Linked DNA regions of Homo sapiens. The protein of the gene in region 3 purifies or fractionates together with the protein of the main gene of each other region. This does not show direct contact. Each region holds a gene or a part of one and is shown on either strand. Other genes may lie near its edges.

Evidence for each region.
Region 1: the proteins of DDI2 (region 3) and TLN2 fractionate together in Homo sapiens (co-fractionation; one large-scale study listed by BioGRID). This does not show direct contact.
Region 2: the proteins of DDI2 (region 3) and ZNF763 purify together in Homo sapiens (co-immunoprecipitation; one large-scale study listed by IntAct). This does not show direct contact.

What each region holds. Positions count from the first base shown.
Region 1 is NC_000015.10:62,388,929-62,392,679, forward strand, and holds the start of TLN2 (talin-2), read left to right. Parts: upstream 1-1,621; 5' UTR 1,622-1,757; intron 1,758-3,751. UniProt on the Homo sapiens protein: As a major component of focal adhesion plaques that links integrin to the actin cytoskeleton, may play an important role in cell adhesion. Recruits PIP5K1C to focal adhesion plaques and strongly activates its kinase activity.
Region 2 is NC_000019.10:11,967,911-11,971,561, forward strand, and holds part of ZNF763 (zinc finger protein 763), read left to right. Parts: intron 1-3,651.
Region 3 is NC_000001.11:15,627,415-15,631,065, reverse strand, and holds part of DDI2 (protein DDI1 homolog 2), read right to left. Parts: intron 742-3,651; coding exon 505-741; intron 1-504. UniProt on the Homo sapiens protein: Aspartic protease that mediates the cleavage of NFE2L1/NRF1 at 'Leu-104', thereby promoting release of NFE2L1/NRF1 from the endoplasmic reticulum membrane.

The DNA.
Region 1 (3,751 bases), on a different chromosome or scaffold from region 3:
CTGGTGAATGTTTAAAAAGGCGTGGTGAACAAAAATACTTTACCTGTACAATGAGAAATTGTGCCCTGCAATTTTTAGGACTTTCTCAAGTTGCCAAGTAATTGGTTCTCTCACTGTGCATTGATAATGTATACTTTGTTAGCTTTACAGTTTATATTCTGCAATAAGTTACAAAGTTGTACCCTAAGGTTATCTTTGCTGCTATGATACATACAGTCCGGTTCATCAGCCTGGTTAAGGACAGGGTATTGTTCTCACAGAATGTCCAGCCTTATCCAATGTTCCAACGGACTTATTCAAAATAATTTCAATTTACAAAATCAATTCAGTCTCCGGTTTATGGTGACAGCAGTTTCTTTCTCTGAGAAACACTAAAAAGTTGCCAGCAGTTCCATTTGAGTAACTGAATAGATTTGCTACCTATTTCCTGGTCCATTCTGTATTGGGATGGAAATAATGTCGTCTTTCCTTTTTTTTTTCTTTTTTGAGACAGAGTCCCGCTCTGTCATCCAGGCTGGAGTGCAGTGGTAGGATCACCGCTCATGCAGCCCCCGAGCTCCCGGGCTCAAGCGATCCTCCCACCATTCTCCCCAGTAACTGGGACTACAGGCATGCGCCCCCACACCCGGCTGATTTTTAATTTTTTTTGTAGAGATAAGGTCTCGCTATATTGCCCAGGCCGATCTTAAACTCCTTGGGCTTGAGATCTTCCTGCTTTGGCCTCCCAAAGTACTAGGAGTAAAGGGGTCATGGCTAATTCTTGTTTTTTTAAATTACTAATGTGTCCCTTACAGATAAATAAAAAAGTAAAATTACTCACAATTCCACCAATCACTGAGAGACTTATTGGTGTTTATCTATCCAGTCTTTTCTGCCTTTCTCCATAAATCACAGTTTTTAAAAACGGGACCATACGGTACATAGTGTTTTGTCTCCTCACCCCCTTGAATAACCTTCACATTGTTCCATGGTATTTACAGTATTTACTAATAATGACTGTAAATGTAAGAGGTATATAACTGACTTTATTCAGGGCATGGCAAGCAGGAGTGAATTATTTTCTTCTTATCAACACAGCACGCCCCTACCGCCACTCATCCCTATAGTCGTTCTCTAAATACCTAAGTGACACCTGACCAGCAAGGTTTCAGGGTCCTTGTGCTGAAAGGAGCAGGCTCGCCTGGGGTCACGGCCCTCCGCTTCGCAGCAAGACCCCACCGCCCACCACGGCCCTCCAGTTAGCCACAGCTCGCTTCCCCCAGGACCGGGCCAGAGGTCCCGAGAGGGCACTCTGCGGACCTAGGGGCCCCAGCCTACAAGACGCTGTGTCCTGCAGTCATCCCCTTTACACAGCAGAGCCCCAATTCTGGGAAGCCGGGGTCACCCCGAGCCTCCCTTCCCCGTGACAGCTCGGCCGGTGCATCACCTTCCCTCGCGGACCCTTTCAGCATCACCACGCGTGGGAGGAAACCCAGGACGGGCGCCTGAGCCTCGGTGGCGGCCCACCCCGGTGCCGCGCGGCGCCGCGGCCGGACCGGCGCCGCGCCGTCCCCGAATGATGACGCGCTTCCTGCCCTCCCAGCGCTCTCGGGCAGTGCGCTCGCGCTCGCCCTCGGCTCTTGTTCCGCGCCCGGAGCCAGCGGCGGCGGCAGCGGCTGAGGCGGCTGCGGGAGCGGAGTGGTCGCCCAGCGCGCGGGGGGACGCGGGCTGCACTCCCGGGCAGGCGCTCTGCAATGAGACAGTAAATGCATCCCCCGGTAAGGCGCACGGCTCACTCGGGTTTTCCTCTTCCTCCAGCTGCATGCACGTTGCATGAATTTCTCGTGTCTTTTCCCTCCCCTCTCCAGAAGGAAAATGTGGGGTTTTTTTTCCTCCCTTTTGCTTCTCGTGAGTGATGCCAATGCAGGAAAAACCCGTAAAGCTCCCAGATTTGATGGTCTAGGAGGGCTTCTTGCAGGAAAATAAAAATAAAATGAAATTAATGCACCTGTCTATTGCACATGTATGTTTCACTGCACCGGACCCGGGCGCAGCGGTTTGCAAACAGCCTCGCAGTCGGCGCCAGAGAGCGGATTCCTGGCCGTGGGCAGCCGGTCCCCTCCGGGGCTCTCGCTGGGTTTCCGGTAACTGGGCTTTGAAAAGCGGCCCCGCCTGCATAGAGTGTCCCCTCGACCCCAGCCGGGCCCCCGCGCCAGAAGAGTTGGCGCTGGAGGAGCAGCTTCATTCCAGCACTGGCCGCCGGGACTCCAGCGCCACTTTGCAAACAAGTCTCCCGCCGAGGCTCTGGGCTAAGACAGCCCGCCAGTGCGGAGTTCCTTCTCCGGTGCCGGACACTCAGACCTGCCGATCCCACGACTGCCCTTTACTTGGCAATCTCGCCACGGGCGAACTGCTGGCCGCTGAGCGACGGGGGCAGTGCCGGGCCGAGAGCGGGGCCAGGCTTTGCATCCAGTGCGGCTGGCCTCACACAGACTCAGCGGCTCCCTCTCCTTCCTCGGTCCCACGAGCTGAAATTTTGCGCCCATTGGAAGCTGGAGGGACCTGGAGACGAGTATTTCGGGATCCCTGAGGGGACCGAGGAACGACTTTCGAGGGCGCCATATTTTCAGTGGGTCTTGACTGCGGAGGGGAGGGGGCGAGCAGTTTCTGGGTCCCGGGGAGAGCCCCGCGCCCCAGTCGGAGAGGCCTGATCGGTTGTCGCCGGGAAAGTTTGCGCGCCGAGGCAGGCGCGGAGGCGGCCGCACAAGGCGCGCACGACTGCTGTCCCCGCAAGGGCGCGCGGACTACAGCGCGTCGCCACGCCAGCCGGCGGGGCTTGGGAACGAGAGCCGCCGTCACGGACAGCGTGCTGGGCTTGCCGCCTTCCTCTGTCCCGCCTGGACCCGGCCTTGGGGCTCCGAGGCTCAGGGAACACGCCCCTCTTCCCCGCAGCTACCGCTGCCCGGGTGCTCAGCCGGAGCCGTGCGCTGGGCGGCGTCCCGGGGCTGGGCGCCGAGTGTAGAGCGTTCTCCCGGTGCCCGGGCTCGCCTGGGTGCTCCGAGGGGCGCAGTAGCTCACTTCCTGGGGGAGAGGAGGCGCCTTGGTTCGTGGATCAGGACCAGGGCCTGGCCTGTGGTCGCCCCGAGGCCGCCGAACAGCCTGAGCTTCCAGTCGCCTCTTTGGCTTTAGCGGCGACAGCAGTAGCGCCCGCGGCTGCGTGTTCTGCTCTCGCAGCTCGTAGAGGCGAGGAAAGGAGGGCGTTTCCAGAAGTTGGGGCTTCAGGTGACGCGTGGGGAAACTTGGATTCTTGCTGTCCTTGAAGAGCTGGGACAACTTAGGCCAGAATTCCTGTGTCTCATAGTGAAAACTTCTGGTTCTTTCCAGAAGATGAGAGAGGAATGAACTGAAGTGTTGGCGTTGTCAAAGACATAATTAAAGACGGTTGGGTAGGGATGATGTCTTGGAGAAGTGGTCCCCAAAATACACGTAAATTGCCCTGGTGCTGTAAGTACCACTTACTTTTCCATTAATAATACCTGGGTGTGTTAAGCTGTGGCATTGTAAGGTTGCACGCTGACCTCCCTTCTCCAGAGCTTGGAGGCAGCGACCTCTCTGGAGTGAGGGGGAAGCGGGAGTGGGGAATCTTTACTTTTGAAGTAGACTGTGACCTCTGCTTTGTGATGGGACAGGGCACGGGCGTGTTTGCCAACCTACAGGCAGCCAATTGCAGGAACGTGTTCTCCTTGGAGTGTTACCGAAATGATGTCATAGT
Region 2 (3,651 bases), on a different chromosome or scaffold from region 3:
AAACTATCCTTTACCTTTTAGCACACAAGTGCATTAAAACATAACTATAATTATCTTGAAAGCACATACTATTATGAGTATTGGGACATCCGGATGTTCTGTCGTTGTGGGAGTGTAAGGATACTTGCAGGCATCTTCAGGCTGTTTTCTTAATGTCAAACATGTTATGACCATGGGTTGTGACTGGCAAGGAGTGTTTCTTGTTAGTCTCAAGATGGAGCTGATTGGTCTTTCTCTGGCTCCCCTAGGCACTTGCTTCCCTAACACTTATATAGGCAAAAGGCAAATAAATGTAACAGGATTACATTTTCCATAGAAGGCTGATGTATGAGGTACAATAATTTAATTTTTTTTTTTCTTTGAGACAATGTCTAGCTCTGTGGCCCAGGCTGGAGCAGTGGTGCGATCATGGCTTACTGCAGCCTTGACCTCCCCAGCTCAAGCACCTCAGCCTTCCCAGTAGCTGAGAGTACAGTTGCCCACCAGCACACCTGGCTAATTTTTTGTATTTTACAGAGGTGGGGTCTCGATATGTTGCTCAGGCTGGTCTCTTGCTCCTGGCCTCAAACAGTCCTCCTTCCTTGGCCTCCAAAAGTGCTGGGATTATAGACATGAGCAAATGCATGTGGATAACAACTTAATTTGTAGTGGTTTGCTTTTTTCCCCCAGAGCTTGTTTTCTTTTCTTTCTAGCTGGTTTATATTTCCTTTTCAATTTAAAAAAGTGAATTTAATATTCTAGCTGAAGACAACATGATAGCCATGGAGTCTTTGTGTGAGAAAGTTAAGAGGGAAATTAGTGTACTATAGAGATCAGTAGTAGAGAGGGGCCTGGCGGGATGGCTCACACCTGTAACCCCAGCACGTTGGGAGGCCGAGGCAGGTGGATGGCTTGATCTCAGGAGTTGAAGACCAGCCTGGCAACATAGTGAGACCCCATCTCAATTGTGAAAAATCATATTAAATTTAAAAAGACAGTGACAAGGGAAAGGGTCTTTCCTGTTTCCCTTCAGTCATTTACAACATTTTACAAAACACTATAGGTAAGAAAGAAGGCAAATCTGTAATCAGGGAAAGGAGGGTTCCAGCTAGCTAGGTGAAAGTTGTGTGTCATGTGACTCAACCCCATGATCACATTGCTTCAAGATGATGTAGAGATTCATCAGCTTAAATTTTTGAATTACTTGGTTGTTTTTGCTTGTTTGTTTGTTTTGAGACAGGGTCTCACTCTGTCGGCTAGGCTGGAGTGCAGCGGCGTGATCTCAGCTCACTGCAGCCTCTGCCTTCTGGGTTCAAGTAATTCTCTGGCCTCAGCCTTTCCAGTAGCTGGGATTACAGGTGCGTGCCACCACACTCGGCTAATTTTTCTATTTTTAGTAAAGACAGCGTTTTATCACGTTCGCCAGGCTGGTCTTGAACTTCTGTCCTCAAGTGGTCCATCCACCTTGGCCTCCCAAAGTGGTGGGATTACAGGTGGGAGTCACTGCACCGGGCCTGACTTACTTGTTCACACAGCCTATATAGGTAGAAAATTTCTAGTTATGTAATCAGCGGTTAATTGGTGGATTGTGCCTGATTAAGCATAAATTTCATTTCCCTATACATTAGTAATTTTCACGAGTTGTATTTAAATATGATTTCAGGATCCTTAGGTAGGACCTTAGGACACCTCACACAGTTTGGCCTCATTGCTTCTTATTTAAATTTTTTCACATTCTCCAGGGCAACTGGTTTCCCCTTACATTTTCCAAATATATGGGATGCAGCGTCTCAAATCCTCCACCCTCATACCACAGCCTAACTCTTCAAGGGCTTGCAGTGAAATCTGTTTCTGAACATTTCACATGAGAGGAAAGCAGAGAATAACCACTAGACATTTGCCTGAAAAATCCTTTCTGCCTCTCCTCCTTTTATCTTTCCTAGACACAGACACCTTATCAGGATGTCTTTGGGATGAGGTTCCTTTCTGGAAACTTTACAGGGTGATGTGTCTTCAGTACACCCTCCTATCTTTTCCTGGTTTTGGGTTTTAGAATTGCCTGGGGCTGGCTCAAGATCCCCACAACTGCCATGTCTCCTGGAGGGTCTCATGGGTATTAGTGCCTTAGGGGAGTGGGACCTCCCGAGGGAGCAGCTGAATGCCTTATGGTGGAGGAGATGCCTGGTATACTCTTCATCTACATAACCAATTCTTGGGGTGCTCAGCTTCTGTCTCCCAACTCCACTTTCCATTAATTGGAGACACATGGCTGTTCTGCCAATCGGATGTTGCTAATGAGGAAAAACAGAGATGATTCCTGTCCTCTGGATTGTCTCAACTGTGAAGAGAGAAATATCCCAAAAGACAAGGAAAGGCCACTCCAACAAGGATGTATTTAGCTGTCCCACAGGGAGGTGGTCACCAGAATGCAGCTGAGTAAGTCCCATATGTGAGTTAACCACATGGAGGAACTGGGAGGAGGTGGAGAACCAGAAACTGTTCAGAGTTTGAGTAAAGTTTTCTTCTGTTATAACAACGTTAAATCCATAAAGAAAATGCATGCTAAGGTAACATATAAATAAAAGAATTCACTGTAACAGGTAACTCTAGAATTAATTAAATTATTGTATATGGAGATGATGAGTAGTAGATTGATTATTCTCCTGTAGATAACCATTTGTCCCTGCTTTTTCTGTTAAGTGTTCACCACTTGTATCATTGGCTGGCAATACCTGGTTTGTCATAGTTTCATATTACCTTAAATAGATGTCCAGAGCAGGTGCAGTGGCTCACACACTTTGGGAGGCTGAGGCTGGCAGATCACCTAAGGTCAGGAGTTTGAGACCAGCCTGACCAATATAGTGAAACCCCATCTGTACTGAAAATACAGCATTAGCTGAGCATGGCAGCGCATGGCTATAATCCTAGCTACCTGGGAGGCTGAGGCAGGAGAATCGCTTGAACCTGGGAGGTGGAGGTTGCAGTGAGCCGAGATCCCGCCTTTGCCCTCCAGCCTGGGCAAGGAGAGTGAAACCTCATTTCAAAAAATAAAAAAAAAACTAAAAAACTAGATGCCCTGGTCTCACAATTTGCTGTTTTCCATTGGTCTGTCCTTCCATCTCTCTGTTAATACCATTTTCTCTTAATTAGTGTAGAGTTCAAAGCTGCAGTGTATAGTAGGGATATTGCTTCTCTATCTTAGTCATCTTGGGCTGCTACATCAAATTACCATAGACTGGGTAACTTAAAGAATAAACATTTGTTTCTGACAGTTCTTGAGGTTGTGAAGTCCATGTTCAGGGAGTTGGCAGATCTAGTGTCTGGTAATGGCCCGCTTCCTGGTTTGCAGATGGTCATCTTGTGGTTTCTTCACATGACAGAAAAGAGAGGAAGCTGGCTGTCCTGTGTCTTCCTATAAGAGCACTAATCTCATTCGGAAAGCATCTACCTTTATGCTCTCATCTAATCCTAATTAATTCCCAGAGATGTCAACTTCTAATACTATAGTGGGGGGTAGGTTATTAATGTGTGATTTTTTTAGAGTGATGCAAATATTCATGCCGTAACACCCTCCAACCATATTCTATAGAGCATCTTGGCTGTTCTTAGTCATTGTCTTCTATTTCAGTTTTTAGAAGTACTTTTTTCTTAATTTTAGTGAAAAAAACAAAC
Region 3 (3,651 bases):
CGAGACCATCCTGGCTAACACGGTGAAACCCCGTCTCTAATAAAAATACAAAAAATTAGCCAGGTGTGGCAGCATGCGCCTGTAGTCCCAGCTACTTGGGAGGCTGAGGCAGGAGAATGGCATGAACCCGGGAGGCGGAGCTGGCAGTGAGCCAAGATTGCACCACTACACTCCAGCCTGGGCGAAAGAGCAAGACTCCGTCTCAAAGAAAAAACAAAGAAACAAACAAAAATCAGTACCTAGGTTATCTGCTGCCAAAAACAATGAGGAAAACAAAAAGTAAACCAAGGGGGGTGGCCTAGATGGATTTCACTGCTAAAACTCTATTGCTGTTTCCAAGTAACTCAGCCTTTGACTTTAGCACTAATTTACCTCTCACAGAGAAAAAACTGGTATGTTCAATAAATCATGTGACACAGTGTCGCTTGAGTCTCTTCACATTTGCTATGACACAGCTTCTTCACCTCAGGCCAGCCTAATAGCCTTCCAAATTTATAAGCTTACCAAGGTCTCCACTGAGCAGAGCTTCTGCCAGGGGTGGATTGCGTTCCTTCAGCAAGGACAGCTCATGCGGGTTGGCCAGCAACATATCTCGGAGCAAGGCTGGATTGTCCAAGCCCTGAGGAGATGAAGTTATTTCTCCAGGAGATGAGTGGGACTGCTGTGTTCCTGGTGGCTGGCGCTGCCGGGGACTTGATGTGCCAGGCACAGCTATACTACTGAAATCTATTCGGGGTAAGTCTGTTGGGGAAAATCAATTCAGTTTACTCAAATTACTCTACAAAAACAAGCACTTGAAGGAAACAGCAGAACACTTGCTCATACATGGTATATGACAGCAGCAAAGGTAACTGTAGACTTTAACCTTGTTCTTTCTCATGATGACTCTGAATATAAAGACTGCCGGCTGAGAGTGAATCGATAGAAGAAGAAAAATAGGGGGAAGGTGATGGTAGTAACTCCAAATTTTTAGCTTATAAAATATCTCACAATAGACATCAGGTTTTTAATTTATGTTTTTAAATCATTAAAGTGGCCAGGCGTGGTGGCTCACACCTGTAATCCCAGCACTTTGGGAGGTCAAGGTGGCTGGATCACCTGAGGTCAGAAGTTCAAGACCAGCCTGGTCAACATAGTGAAACTCTGTCTCTACTAAATATACAAAAATTAGCTGGGCGTGGTCGCAGTCACCTGTAATCCCAGCTACGCAGGAGGCTGAGGCAGAAGAATCACCTGAACCCGGGAGGTGGAGGTTGCAGTGAGCCGAGATGGCGCCATTGCACTCCAGCCCAGGCAACAAGAGCGAAACTTCATCTCAAAAGAAAAAAAAAAAAAAAAATTAAAGCTAGTTTCAATAAATATAATTGCATAAGTCTGGATGTTGTTCTTGAGAAAAATCCTACTCTGGTCTGACATATGGTTCAAACAGCCTTGACGCTTGGATTAAAGAATTTTTTTTTTTTTTTTTTGACACGGAGTCTTGCCTTGTTGCCCAGATTGGAGTGCAATGGCACGATCTTGCCTCACTGCAACCTCTGCCTCCTGGGTTCAAGTGATTCTCCTGCCTCAGCCTCCCGAGTAGCTGGGATTACAGGCGTGTGCCACTACGCCCAGCTAATTTTTTGTATTTTTAGTAGAGATGGGATTTCACCATGTTGGCCAGGCTGGTCTCGAAATCCTGACCTCAGGTGATCCACCCACCTCAGCCTCCCAAAGTGCTGGGATTATAAGTGTGAGCCACTGTGCCCGGCCGGATCAAAGGATATTATATATGTCAAGTGAGCAGCATAAATATTAGATGCTAAATTCTGCAAGTCAGTGCTAAACGTATTGGCTCAGGGAAGTTCTTAATAGTTCTCTGAATTTATACTTTAATCTGTGCATCTCTGCTAACTCTTCTCATGCCCTTGGGGAGCTAAACAGTGTCATCATTTTATAGAAAAGAAAGAAGAAAAGGGACTTGCATAGGTTCTCAGTGCTGAATACACCAAAAGCTACCACAGTTTAGAAGCTACAACTCCCAGGTTCTATATGCCAGGTGGAACTGACCTTACTAAAATGAAAGGAAGATAAAAGGGAATTTTAATCCTTACACAACGGACTCACATATTGTATGACCCCATTTATATGAAATGTTCCAAATAGGTAAATACATAGAGACAGAAAGTAGACTTGTAGTTGTCTAGGCTGCGGAGACTAGGGGGAAATGGGAAATGACTATAAATGGGTATAGGATTTCTTTTTAAGGTAATGAAAATACGCTAAAATGGATTGTGGTGATGGTTACACAACTCATGAATATAGTAAAAAAAAATCATTTAAATGCATGAATTCTATCTCAATAAAACTGTTATTTAAAAAAGAAAAATGAAAAAGAGAAAAGTAAACAAGGAGAGCCAGAATGAGGGGCTAGGCCTGAGTCAATCGACATTCCTTCAACTCCAAAAAATATAGTTGATGGTCAAACTTGTCTGAACAACTGAATACTTTTCTTAAGGATAACTGTGCTTAATGTTATAAATGACAGTACACTAAGCAATTCCACAGTGATCAGAATTATAGCACAATCCTTGCACTATTAAGGATTTTAAATAAACTAAAAAATCAAAAAACAAACAAACTTGTCTCAAGTCTGGGACTATCCTGAAGCCTTTTTGGACCTCAGATAGAAAAAGAGAATGCTTAAACTCATGATGTAACATTTCTACCCTTTAGCAGGGGTTCAACTAGCCACTTTCTTCAACTCCCAACCAAGGAAATGGTGAAGTGAAGAGGATGATCTCTGTGAGGTAGTTAATCTATACCAGCCAGAAAAACATATATGGGTGGGCCCTCTTTGCAGGTCAAGAAATTTTATCTCCACTCCTGTTATACATTATCTTGAGAGTCCATTCACTTCAGAATAATTCTCAAAAACATGTTTACTTAATAGACCAGATCACTCCTGCCCCAACCTGTTACAGGCTCTCTTGTCCATAAACAACAATGCAGAGGAAAAAAAAAAAGAAGTAAATTCCGGAATTAATAATCTCATCAAATTAACCAAAGGAAGATGTGGTTTTTACTGATTGTCATAGTTGTTTAAATACGTTTAACTTCTTCAGAAAGAAGTTTTAACTTCTTTCTAAAGTTTAACTGTGGCCCCAAGGGACTAATGTCTTCCAGATCTGGTGGAGCCGGTCCTTGATGGTCTCAGTAAGTTCCAGTTTCAGGCTGAATGGAAACACTGTGGTTAAAACTGCAGTCAGTCTGTCATCACCCAGACTCTGCCAGCATCTGTCACCATAAACTTTAAAACTGGTGACCTACAGGCTAAACACTATTTAAGAAAATCTATCTGAATATGGCAGCGAATGGAAAAAAACCACACATTTCACCAAGCTGTTTCACATTAAGACCTTATAATCATTTTGTGGATCATGAGCCACTTCAAGTATCTGAACAAAGCTATGACCCTCTCTCTATCCAGTGCACACACACATTCACATCCACACAATTCTGCATATTATTTCAGTGACATAGAACCTACTAAATCCCAATGCACAGAGTTCAGACTATAAACATCTATTATAAAAGCAGCATCAAAGATAGATAAACGTTTCTTTGTATGTGATTAACACAGCTGGTAGGAAAGAACCACAACTTGGTGGT